Regions from separate parts of the Homo sapiens genome. Here region 2 is linked to region 1. The links come from fine-mapping of genetic effects on gene expression. A gene starts in region 1. The other region holds a variant in brackets. All regions are shown on one strand. Distances are from middle to middle. Region 1 holds the start of ADPRS (ADP-ribosylserine hydrolase). Region 2 overlaps AGO3 (argonaute RISC catalytic component 3).

Evidence for each region. PIP is the estimated chance that this variant, and not a neighbour inherited with it, causes the effect.
Region 2: its variant is fine-mapped to the expression of ADPRS in whole blood (TOPMed, PIP above 0.99).

What each region holds. Positions count from the first base shown.
Region 1 is chr1:36,086,662-36,092,036 of GRCh38, reverse strand. It overlaps ADPRS (ADP-ribosylserine hydrolase), which reads right to left and starts at 3,145. Exons shown (of 6, transcript NM_017825.3): 1 at 2,922-3,145; 2 at 697-793; 3 at 212-419; 4 at 1-127. The coding sequence starts at 3,132. It overlaps TEKT2 (tektin 2), which reads right to left. Exons shown (of 10, transcript NM_014466.3): 5 at 5,190-5,333; 6 at 4,992-5,106; 7 at 4,726-4,833; 8 at 4,455-4,598; 9 at 4,230-4,309; 10 at 3,762-4,064. The coding sequence ends at 3,851. RefSeq lists enhancers at 2,472-3,056, 3,057-3,642 and silencers at 2,698-3,127, 3,238-3,327.
Region 2 is chr1:36,053,624-36,058,998 of GRCh38, reverse strand. It overlaps AGO3 (argonaute RISC catalytic component 3), which reads right to left. Exons shown (of 19, transcript NM_024852.4): 18 at 3,854-4,053; 19 at 1-3,362. The coding sequence ends at 3,254. Among named protein-coding and RNA genes, the nearest start is that of TEKT2, 28 kb to the left of the region's middle. The variant T/C (reference allele first, on the strand shown) is at 3,015.

The sequences.
Region 1 (5,375 bases):
GTTGCTTGAGAAAGTGCTCGCTGGAAGACTCGCCCTGCAAGGCCAGGTGCACAGCCAGGGCCTGCAGGATGGCGCCATTGTAACCCAGGGAGGAGGCGTGTGTCAGCTGGGCCGAGAGCCGGGCAAACTAGGGAGGAGGAGACCTGCTGTCACAGAAGCCCTGCTGCAGAAGAGGAAGGGGACAGCCCAGAAGCCAGCCCGCCCTGAATACCTTCTGCACATCCTGGACACTGCTATAGGCCAGGGAGATGCCAGCCACCCGCATGGCACCTCCATTGCCATAGGAGCCTTTCCCGTTAAACTGGGCCCGGGCAGGCTCAAAGACATCGCGACATTTGGGGTTCAGGAGCTTCTTGAAGACAGTGACTACTCCAGCACCATAGCCCCTGTCAGGGTCTTTCTTGTACTCCTGAGCAAATCTAGGGAACAGAAGGGGAGACAGAATTCAGATTTACAAGATGCCTCTAAGGGTTGGGAGAGAAGAAATCGAGGCTAGTTTGGAAAAAGAGAAAGCCTCGGGGGCCTAAGGAGCCTGCACCAGCAGTGCTGCTGTTTTAGCTTGGGAAGCTGTGCCAGCCTGACACAGGCTTCTGTGGAGGGTTGGGGGCGTGGACATGCACAAATGTCATTCCTCTGGTCAAGGGGTGCAATAACTTTCCCACCTGGTTTGCCTCAGCCCAGGACCATCCCCCTCACCTGTGAGCCATGTCCACCTCGTCAAAGGCCTCCTTGGCTAGCAGGGACTGCACCAGGGCCCTGGCCATGGCTGTGTCATCTGTGTAGTACAAGGCTTCTGTGGGGAGAGGAGGGAGGATGAGAGCCTCCTGCTCACCTTTGTTTTTTTTGTTGTTGTTTTTTGCTTTTTTTGGAGACAGAGTCTCGCTCTGTTGCCCAGACTGGAGTGCACTGGTGCAATCATGGCTCACTGCAGTCTTGAACTCCTGGGCTCAAGCTATCCTTCTGCCTCAGCCTCTCAAGTAGCTGGGACTATAGGCATGCATCATCACACCCAGCTACTTTTATTTTTTTGTAGAGACAGGGTCTCACTCTGTTGTCCAGACTGGTCTTGAATTCCTGGGCTCAAGCAATCCTCCTGCCTTGGCCTCCCAAAGAGCTGGGATTATAGGCCTGAGCCACTGTGCCTGGCCCTGCTCACCTTTTATTTTAGTTTATATTATTATTTTTTTGGTACAGGGTCTCACTCTGTTGCCTAAGCTGCAGTGCAGTGGTACGACCATGGCTCACTCCATCTCGACCTCCCAGGCTCAAGGAGCCTCTTGCCCCAGCCTCCCGAGTAGCTGGGACTACAGGTGCACACCACTGCGCCTGGCTTTTTTTTTTTTTTTTTTTTTTTTTTGTAGAGATGGAGTTTCATCCTGTTGCCAGGCTGGTCTCAAACTCTTGGGCTCAAGTGGACTCTCCCAAAGCGCTGGGATTACAGTTGTGGCTACGGCACCCAGCCTCTACTCATGTTTCAGAGTTACCACATCTAAAATGACCTCAAATCAGTTTCTCACTCCCATTCACTTTCGTGGGCCTGGGAAGCCTTAGGATCTCAGCAATGGGATTTTCAGCAATTCTTTATTCCAAGTCAGTCCTGCTGCTTTCTATTTTATGTATTTATTTATTATGAGCCTACATCATGGTTTGATCTTCTGATTTCTGAAAGAAAACTTCCATCCCCTTGTGGCTGCCATCCTTGCAGCTCCAGTCTTTTTGTTTTTGTTTTGTTTTTCTTTTTTATAGACAGGATCTTGCCATGTTGCCCAGGCTAGTCTCGAACTCCTGGACTTAAGCGATGATCCTTCCACCTCAGTCTCTGGAGTAGCTGGGATTATAGGTGTGCGCCACCATACCCAGATTGAAAATGATAGTTTCTGGATCCAGATCTCCTCCTACTTCACTTCTCTGGAGCACACCACCAGTGATCAGTGTCTTCATTTTGAAATTCTTTTCCTAGGTTTCGTTGATAGCCACTCCTGCTTCTCCTCCTATCAAACTGTTTCCTTCCCTAATCCCCTTCCCTCCCTCCCTCCCTCTTAATTACCGGTGTTCTCCAGGGTTCTGACCATGGCCCTTTCTTCTTACTATGCTACCTGCTCTCCAAGAAGATTCACCTCCTCTGCTTGACCTCACACCTGCTACCTGAGCCGGGATCTGAGCCCACAAGGGAAGGGAAGTTAGTTTTACAGGCGAGACAGCGCATGCAAACGCCTGGCCTAGAGGAATCATGGTGTGAGGAACCGAAGAGCAGAAAGCAAGGCCAAGGCTGGCGGAAAACGAAACTGCAGACGTGTGGGAGGGCCGGACCACGTCGGACACGTTAAGGAATGTGGCTCTGTACTAAGGGTAATGGGAAATCACAGCAGGGTTTTAGGCAGGGGAGGACGCGATTAGAGTCAGGCTTCCAAAGCACGCCTTGCGGGGTGGAGAACGGGCTGGTGGTATACTGACTCTAGAGAACCGGGAAAAAGAGGTCAAGTCGGCAAGGGTGGACAGACAGTCCCCGACTTAGGATGGTTCAACTTAAGTTTTTTTCGGCTTTCTGATAACGCTGATACGCATTCATAGGCTCCTCGACGTCCGATGGGGCTGCGTCCAGATAAAACGGTCGTCTAAGCTGAAAGCGCACTTTCCACTTCAGGTATTTTCAACTTACGATGGGTTTATCCACACCCTGCACGGTTGAGGCCCCGGTGCTGCCACGCCCCGAGCACGGGATGTTCGGGGCGAGACGTCTATAAGGCCGGAGATCGCACTGGCACTCGCTGAGCTCAAGCTGTCTGCGGGTCATCCGGCTCTGGCCCCGGTGCCCTCGGCAGCCTCATCCCCGCGCACCCCCGACCCGTCGCCCCCGGAGGCTCCGCGCCCCTTCGGCCTCCCTCCCGCACGGCCTCTGACTTGCGCCCGGCCCCGCCCACCTGTCCGCTCACTCCCGGGCGTGCCGGGGTCCGGCTCCAGACTCTGGACATGACGCAGGACTGACGTCAGGTCGACGGTGTCGTGGGCCTCGTAGAAGGAGCCCACGCAGTCCCCGAGCAGCGCGCCAGCCAGGCAGCCTCGGAAGCGCGAGAGGGAGCGGGCCGCGCCAGCCCCTCCACCTGCCGCTGCCGCCATCGCCGCTGCGGCCATCCGCGCGCAGACTGCTCGCCACTTCCGGTGCCGCCCTCACAGTTTCCCTACTTCCGTCCGCAGCGCTCCCTGGGGCCTAGAGTTTCCACTCCGCCGCCAGGCCCACAGCGCCGCCCAGCGGCCCGGAGTCGCGGCGCCGCGCACTTCCCGCCAGCCTGTGCTTTGAGTCTCGGTTTTCCGCTCCTCACCACTGGGCTAACTGGGTGGGAAGGCCACTATGGGGTCTCCGGGGGATGGGCACTGAGCCAGACCATTGGATCACTGCAGCCCACACTGCCTTCCGCAGGCGAGCAACCCTAACTCCGCACCCCCAGCCGGCCCTCCCCACCGAGGCCGGGACCACCCCCAAGCCCTCCCACCGGGCCCTTGCCCCCTGTGGGCCTCCCTTAAGCATCAGGAGGGCGGACCAGGGGCCAACTGGGACACAGCCAGGTAGAGGCCGCGCTGCTGCAGCCCAGGAGTGCTGACCCAGCCCAGAGAGGGGTGCCCTGAGGGGAGGGAAAGAACTGGATTTGGTACATGGAGTTCGGAGGAATAGTGTTCCCCATCTTTGCTCCTCCATAGACAGGAGGGTGTTCAAGAACCCTCTCCCTGCTGGCTACATACAGTGGGGCAGAGAACAGCCGGCCTGAGATCCTCTGCATTTATTCCATTCATTTCTCTCCTCCCTCCTTCCATTGCCCACCCAACCCTGCCCTCCTCCTGCAGTCCTCCAAGGCTAGGCCAGCTCCAGCTGGCAGCTTTTGAGTGGACTCAGGGTGCTATTTGTGGTACGTGTGAAGGTGTCCACCTCAGGCACGAACCTCTCAGCAGGCACGGTCAGCTTGCGCCGTGTGTCCATGCACTTGGTGTCCAGCAGCATGGAGTTGGCCTTGCAGGCAATGTCAGCCTGCAGCCGGGCCAGGTGCTTGCACAGGGCGTCCAGTGCGTCCCTAGGGAAGGACATTGACAACCCCCCAGCCCCCATGAGGCTGGGAGGCCTGGGCTGCGTGCATAGCCTTCAGTCAGGAAGACAGCCCCAGGGAGCCAGCAGCCAGCAAGAGGCCCCATTTGTGGGCAGCGTCTCACTGCTCCTTCCGCCCACTCCCGAGACCTACTGTGCTTGCGCCAGCTTCTGCTTCAGGGCAGCGATGGTTGCCTCTAGCTGGTGAACCTCGTCGGTGAGGCCGTACTGTGCCTGGAGGCAGAGGGGTTGGGAGTTCCAAGTCAGCCACACTGTCCTTTACCTGAGTGCTGCCCCTTGACAGCAGTGCCCTTGCTCCATCAGGAATATGAGAAAACCTTGGCTAGGGGGCCCGTGCGCCACTGGGACACCCTCTCACCTGGTCCCGGCAGAGTTCCACGTTGGGCCGGTAGGTTCTGGCCTCTAGCCGGGTATGGGACAGCTTCAGGCTCAGGAGCTTTGTGCGCAGATCCTCCTCCAGGTGCCGGATGTCCTCCTGCAGCTCAGCGATCTCCTCCAAGGTCTGCAGGGGACAGAGTGACTGGTTTCCACCTGCTGGACTCACGTGCATGCCTGGTCCAGTGCCTCCTGGCGGGGGCATGCGGCTTCTCATCCCACAGCAGGAAGTCCAGGCCCCTGGAGATGCTCACATTCTTCTCTTGCCACTTGAGCTCACTGTACACTTTCTCCATCTCCCGCAGCCGCTTCCTGAAGGCAAATTCCGTTGCAACTCTCTGGGCTTCAAGCTCGTTGTTGGTCTGAAGGAGAAAACACAGGGCAAGGGGAGGGTCTACACTCAGGGCTGCCTGAGGATATTACTCAAGCGAGGGGCAGGGGGCCACATGCACAGCAGGGAACAGAAGATAAGGGCTGAGCGCACACTGGGACCATCCATTAGCTGTGGGTGGCCTGTCACCTCAGCAATAGTTAGAGCAGTGGCCTCCCTCAGCTCTGTGGCTGCCTTCATCTCAGCCTCCGCTCGGTCCTTGTTGAACCGACTGAAGTCATCCCACTGCTGGAGTGTGGTGGAGCTGCAGGTGGCAGGGAAAATGGGGGTCATGAGGGTGTGGCCTGGGAGGGGAGGAGAAGAGACTGGCTGAAACACTCTTCTTACCCATCAGGTACACGTGTGGGGTCAACCTTCAGCGAGATGTTTGGGGATCTGAGGTTGAGAGAGAGACAGCCTCTGTCGATCTCTAGTGTCTCCATTTTGCCCCGATGGTCGGAGTTGAGCTGCTGTTGGACTTCCTGCAAGAGGCTGGGGAAAGCGCAGACTCCATCAGGACCATCCCCCAAGGGC
Region 2 (5,375 bases), 33 kb after region 1:
CCTAAAGTTTCCCACATGAATCTGTGCAGCTCCCATGATAAAGGAAGATGTTTTACTCACACTGATCAAGCATAGACGAATTAAATTTTTATCATCTTGGGTATACTATTTTCTTCTCTTGCCCATGATCCTGACTATATTCAGTAAAATTTCAGTGTAAAAAAATCCATCTTTATAGGAAATTTTTCTGGAGGAGATGGGAGAAGGCTGGGAGAAAAAATGTATATACGATACAAATATTACCTTTTGTAAAGTTCTTTGCAACAGTGTTGTAAATTGCATTTCAGACACTTCAAAATAATAAACATACAAAATACAGTACTTTCTTAGTTTTCTGGCAGAGGGACAAAAGATTTCATGCCTGTCAGAGGACATGGGCTCAGATTTTAGGCTCAAAATACAGTGAATTGGCAATAATAGTGGATTACAGGTAAGAGAGAAACTAAAGATCTAAATCCATTAGGTTTCACGTGCAGATGGAATTCTGAAAGGCTAACAACAATGCCCACTGGAAACAATCTGTAGTATCTATACTCTGAACCAGTGCAAAAAAAAAAAAAATCAAAATGCAATTTTCATGAGTTACAAAGTGCAAAGCTCCCCTGAATCCAATGTTACTGATAAACTCAGTTTTGATAGCTTTATAGTACTTTTTAATACCTTAAAGTGTAATCAATAAAAGTTTTGTAAAACAATTTCCCACGTTTCAGTGATTTAACTGATTTAAAATGATCAAAGTCCTAACTTCCTTTGTTACTATCACCTTAATTTTAAAAGGAAAGTTATACTGGTGATACATTAGCAAAAGTTTTAAAATATCATCTTGCATTTTCCTGATTCATTTTAGTAAATGAAAATGGGCATCTAGCCAATATGATTCTTCAATAAACACAATCTATTTGCAAATAATTTAAATATGTTAAGCTATTCACAATTATATAAAAGTTCAACTTTATTTCTAATATTCAAGTTGGACTCATTTAGGCAATTTCACTTCATTTTCATTATGATTTTTTTTTCTTTTGAGACGGAGTTTTGGTTTTGTTGCCCAGGCTGGAGTGCAATGGTGCAGTCTTGGCTCACTGTAACTTCCGCCTCCTAGGTTCAAGCAATCCTGCCTCAGCCTCCCGAGTAGCTGGGATTAGAGGTGCCCACTACCACGCCCAGCTAATTTTTGTATTTTTAGTAGAGACGGGGTTTCACCACGTTGGCCAGGCTGGTCTCAAACTCCTGAGCTCCGGTGATATACCTGTCTCAGCCTCCCAAAGTGCTAGGATTACAGGCATGAGCCACCGCGTCCAGCCTTTTATCATGATGAATTTTAAAAGATATGCTTTAAAACTGAAAATTACAAAACTTTCCTTCTGAAATTAAGGCTGTATTCTTTGCCCTTTTAAACTATGGAGGTGCCTGTTCCTCCTACTATCCATGGTAAAGATGCAGACACAACTTTCCTTTAAAACTGCTTATTGCACTAAAAGATAGCAAAAACAAGTTGTCAGTTCTTAAAATAAACATGATTATATTTCTATAAAAGATGCTGCCAATACAATTCTATAATTATTAAAGCACTATTCTAATAAATATAAAAGAAAAGGAAGCTATACTTCCAAACACATACATATGTGTTTATATACACACACATACATATATATATATAAAAAATATATGAAAATCACATTAAGGTATGAGAGGCAGCAAGTAAACTATCAAAAAACAAAACAAAAAAATCCCTCAACAAACTCTTCTCTCTACTCAATTTCAGAGGTCTCAACCCTACAGAGCTCTAATCTTTTAAAATATTTACCCTTTATAAAACCTTTAAAGAATTTCCATGTATAACCCATAGAAACAGAAGGCTTCAGAATACACATCACTTACCAGAGAGAAAGTTACAACTTCTGACAGGTTTTATATTTATAGCAGCTTTAACAAACTCACTAAAGAAAAAGAATAGTAGGCCGGGTGCGGTGGCTCATGCCTGTAATCCCAGCACTTTGGGAGGTCGAGGCGGGTGGATCACAAGGTCAAGAGATCGAGACCATCCTGGCCAACACGGTGAAACCCCGTCTCTACTAAAAATACAAAAATTAGCTGGGTGTGGTGGCACATGCCTGTAAACCCAGCTACTCGGGAGGCTGAGGCAGGAGAATTGCTTGAACCCGAGAGGCGGAAGTTGCAGTGAGCCGAGATCTCGCCACTGCACTCCAGCCTGGTGACAGAGCGAGGCTCTGTCTCATTAAAAAAAAAAAAGAAAGAAAAGAAAAAGAAAAAAGAAAAAGAATAGTTCAGGTTGCTACTGCTTATATACAAATTGCGCAAATGGTAAATGTATGTTCTGAGTGGGAGGGGAGAGACGCACTCTCACAGAAAGTTATTTTATGTATATATATGTGTGTGTCTGTGTCTGTGTATGTATGTATACATATATATATAAAATTTTGTTTCTTAAGACAGCAATATCAAGAGTTGAGAACTCAGAATTGTGTATGAGATAGGAGTCAGGAGTAGGGTATGCAAAATAAAAGTAGAATTCTAGTTTGCCATATTTTATATTCAAACGAACCAGATACATCAACATTTGAATGTCACTGGTAGGACTGGGAAAAAAATGTAGGTGATGAAGGCAAGGGAAATAGAGAAATAAAGGCGGTAGTGGGGGTAGAATAAAAGGGAAAGAAAATTCCCCAATGGAATGAACTCTAAAATATATAACAGACACATATATATCTATTATCAATCCAGATCTAGATATATATGCATATGAAGTATGGATGTATATATTTTAAAAATACACAGACACCTTTTACAAGAATATATGAATGCACATTAATTTTTTGCACACATAATTCTGAAAAATCACTTTGATTATTCATGAAGGTGTGTATTTTTTAAACCATCATTTACTTTTTCTTTACTTTTTTTTGCAAAGATAGTTGTGCTGCCAAGCAACTTGAGGTAAAGGCATTAAAAGGGTTAGACTACAAGAAATGAAAACAAAACAATTGCGATAC[T/C]TCCTATAGGAGACCGCACAAAAAGCAGTTGGCTGGTTTCATATTGCATAATGATGCTGTGTTCCTTGATGAAGTAAACAATCTTCCTTGTATTAACATAAGGATCAGACCTTGGCCCCCACACAGTGTTGGTTTCTGTATGGCTGGAGGTGTCCTTACTCAATTGACTTCACTGGAAACATACGTTGTATGTCAATTCATCTTTCAGTACTTCCTCTCAGAGAATATACTTGGACTATTTAAGCGAAGTACATTGTGCGTAAGGTATCTTGGTGAATCTGTACAGCCTTGGCAAGAGCTTGTGGATCTCGCCCATTGCTTTGTCCTGAAACGTGACTTCCTTCAGCACTGTAAGAGAAGTGGCAATGAACACAAAAACAAACTTTCTATTCTGATGTAATAATTCCGAAAAATACTATTTGTTGTAGAAAATTTCAAAATTATTAACAAATAAGAGACTGGTGTAACAATCTATGTGTCCATCACTCAGCTTCAATCACTATTAACTCAAGGCCAATTTTGTTTTACTTCTCTCACCTCCCCAGAATTAATTAGAAGCAAACCTAGATATCGTATCATTTTGTCTATCTGTCTGAATGTATCACTTTATTACCAATAATCTCTCCTTTGAATTAATGTAGTAAAACAACTAAGTTACTACATGATTCTATTACTAATGAGCCTAGACAATATATTTCAATAGGAAACCTTGGGCAGTCAGTTCTGTCATCATTTTTCACATGGATCACTGACTCCGCTAATAGCTTGTGGAACTTGAAAATCCTACCATGCAGACAATATTGGGATTTGGGTGAGAACCTGTTATGCTTTTATATTACCTGTCATGTTCTTTGTCCACAAGATGATATCTGGCTCTAAATGCTACCAGGTGAGCATAATACGCTGGTGCAGGTATAGAAACAGATCGTGTACAGCGTACGTAAGTGTGGCAGAGCTGGTAAGTTAGCAGCTGAAGTTCATCTGCAGTAAAGCAGTTATCATCCCATAAAACATGATAGTGTGAAGGACGACTGGTACCCTATAGAGAAGGCAATGACATACACTGTTGAATTTTGAACTCTTTTTGTTTTGTTTTGTTTTTTGAGACAAAGTCTTGCTCTGTCACCCAGGCTGAAGTGCAATGGCGTGATCTCAGATCACTGCAACCTCCACCTCTGGGGCTCAAAAGATTCTAGTGCCTCTGCCTCCCCAGTAGCTGGGATTACAGGCATGTGTGATCATGCCCAGCTAATTTTTTGTATTTTTAGTAGGGACAGGGTTTTGCCATGTTGGTCAGGCTGGTCTCAAACTCCTGACCTTAAACGATCTGCCTGCCTCAGCCTCCCAAAGTGCTGGAATTACAGGCGTGAGCTACTGTGCTGAGCCCAATTTTGAACTTTTTAATAAATATTTAATACCAAGTCACATAAAAAACAGGTTTGGCACTTTGGGAGGTTAAAGTGGGAGGGTAGCTTGAGGCCAGGAGTTCAAGACCAGCCTGCACAACACAGTGAGGCTCCATCTCCACAAAAGGTAAAAAAAAAATTAGCCAGATGTGGTGGCATGCACCTGTAGTCCCAGCTACTTGGGAGGCTGAGGCAGGCAGATCACTTGAGCCCAGGAGGTCAAGGCTGCAGTGAACTATGATCCCATCATTGCACTCCAGCCTGGGTGACATAGTGAAACTTTGTCTCAATAAATAAATAAATGAAATGAAATAAAATAAAATAGAAAAGTAAAGCTGGGAAGATGTATAAAGAACAGTTTTTAGTCTCTGTGAAATATTATTGGTTATTTGCTGACTACAGCAGAAGTTTCAAACTGATATCCTAAAGGAAATCTGTTCAGGCTGGGCATGGTGGCTCATGCTTATAGTCTCAGCACTTTGGGGAGGCTGAGGTGGGAGGACAGCTCAAGCCCAGGAGTTTGTGACTAGCCTAGGCAACATAGGAAGACCTCATCTCTACAAAAAGATTTAAAAAATTAGCCAGGTGTGGGCCAGATGTGGTGGAGATCAAGACCATCCTGGCTAATATGGTGAAACCCCATCTCTACTAAAAATACAAAAATTAGCTAGGCGTGGTGATGCGTGCCTGTAAGCCCAGCTACTCAGGAGGCTGAGGCAGGAGAATCGCTTGAACCAGGGAGTTGGAGGTTGCAGTGAGCCGAGATCGCACCACTGCACTTCAGCCTGGTGACAGAGCGAGACTGTCTCAAAAAAAAAAAAAAAAAAAAAAAATTAGCCAGGTGTGGTGGTGTGGACCTGTAGTCCCAGCTAGGTGGGAGGCTGAGGCAGGAAGATTGCTGAGCTCAGGAAGTCAAGGCTGCAGTGAGTGGTGATTGTGCCACTGCACTCCAGCC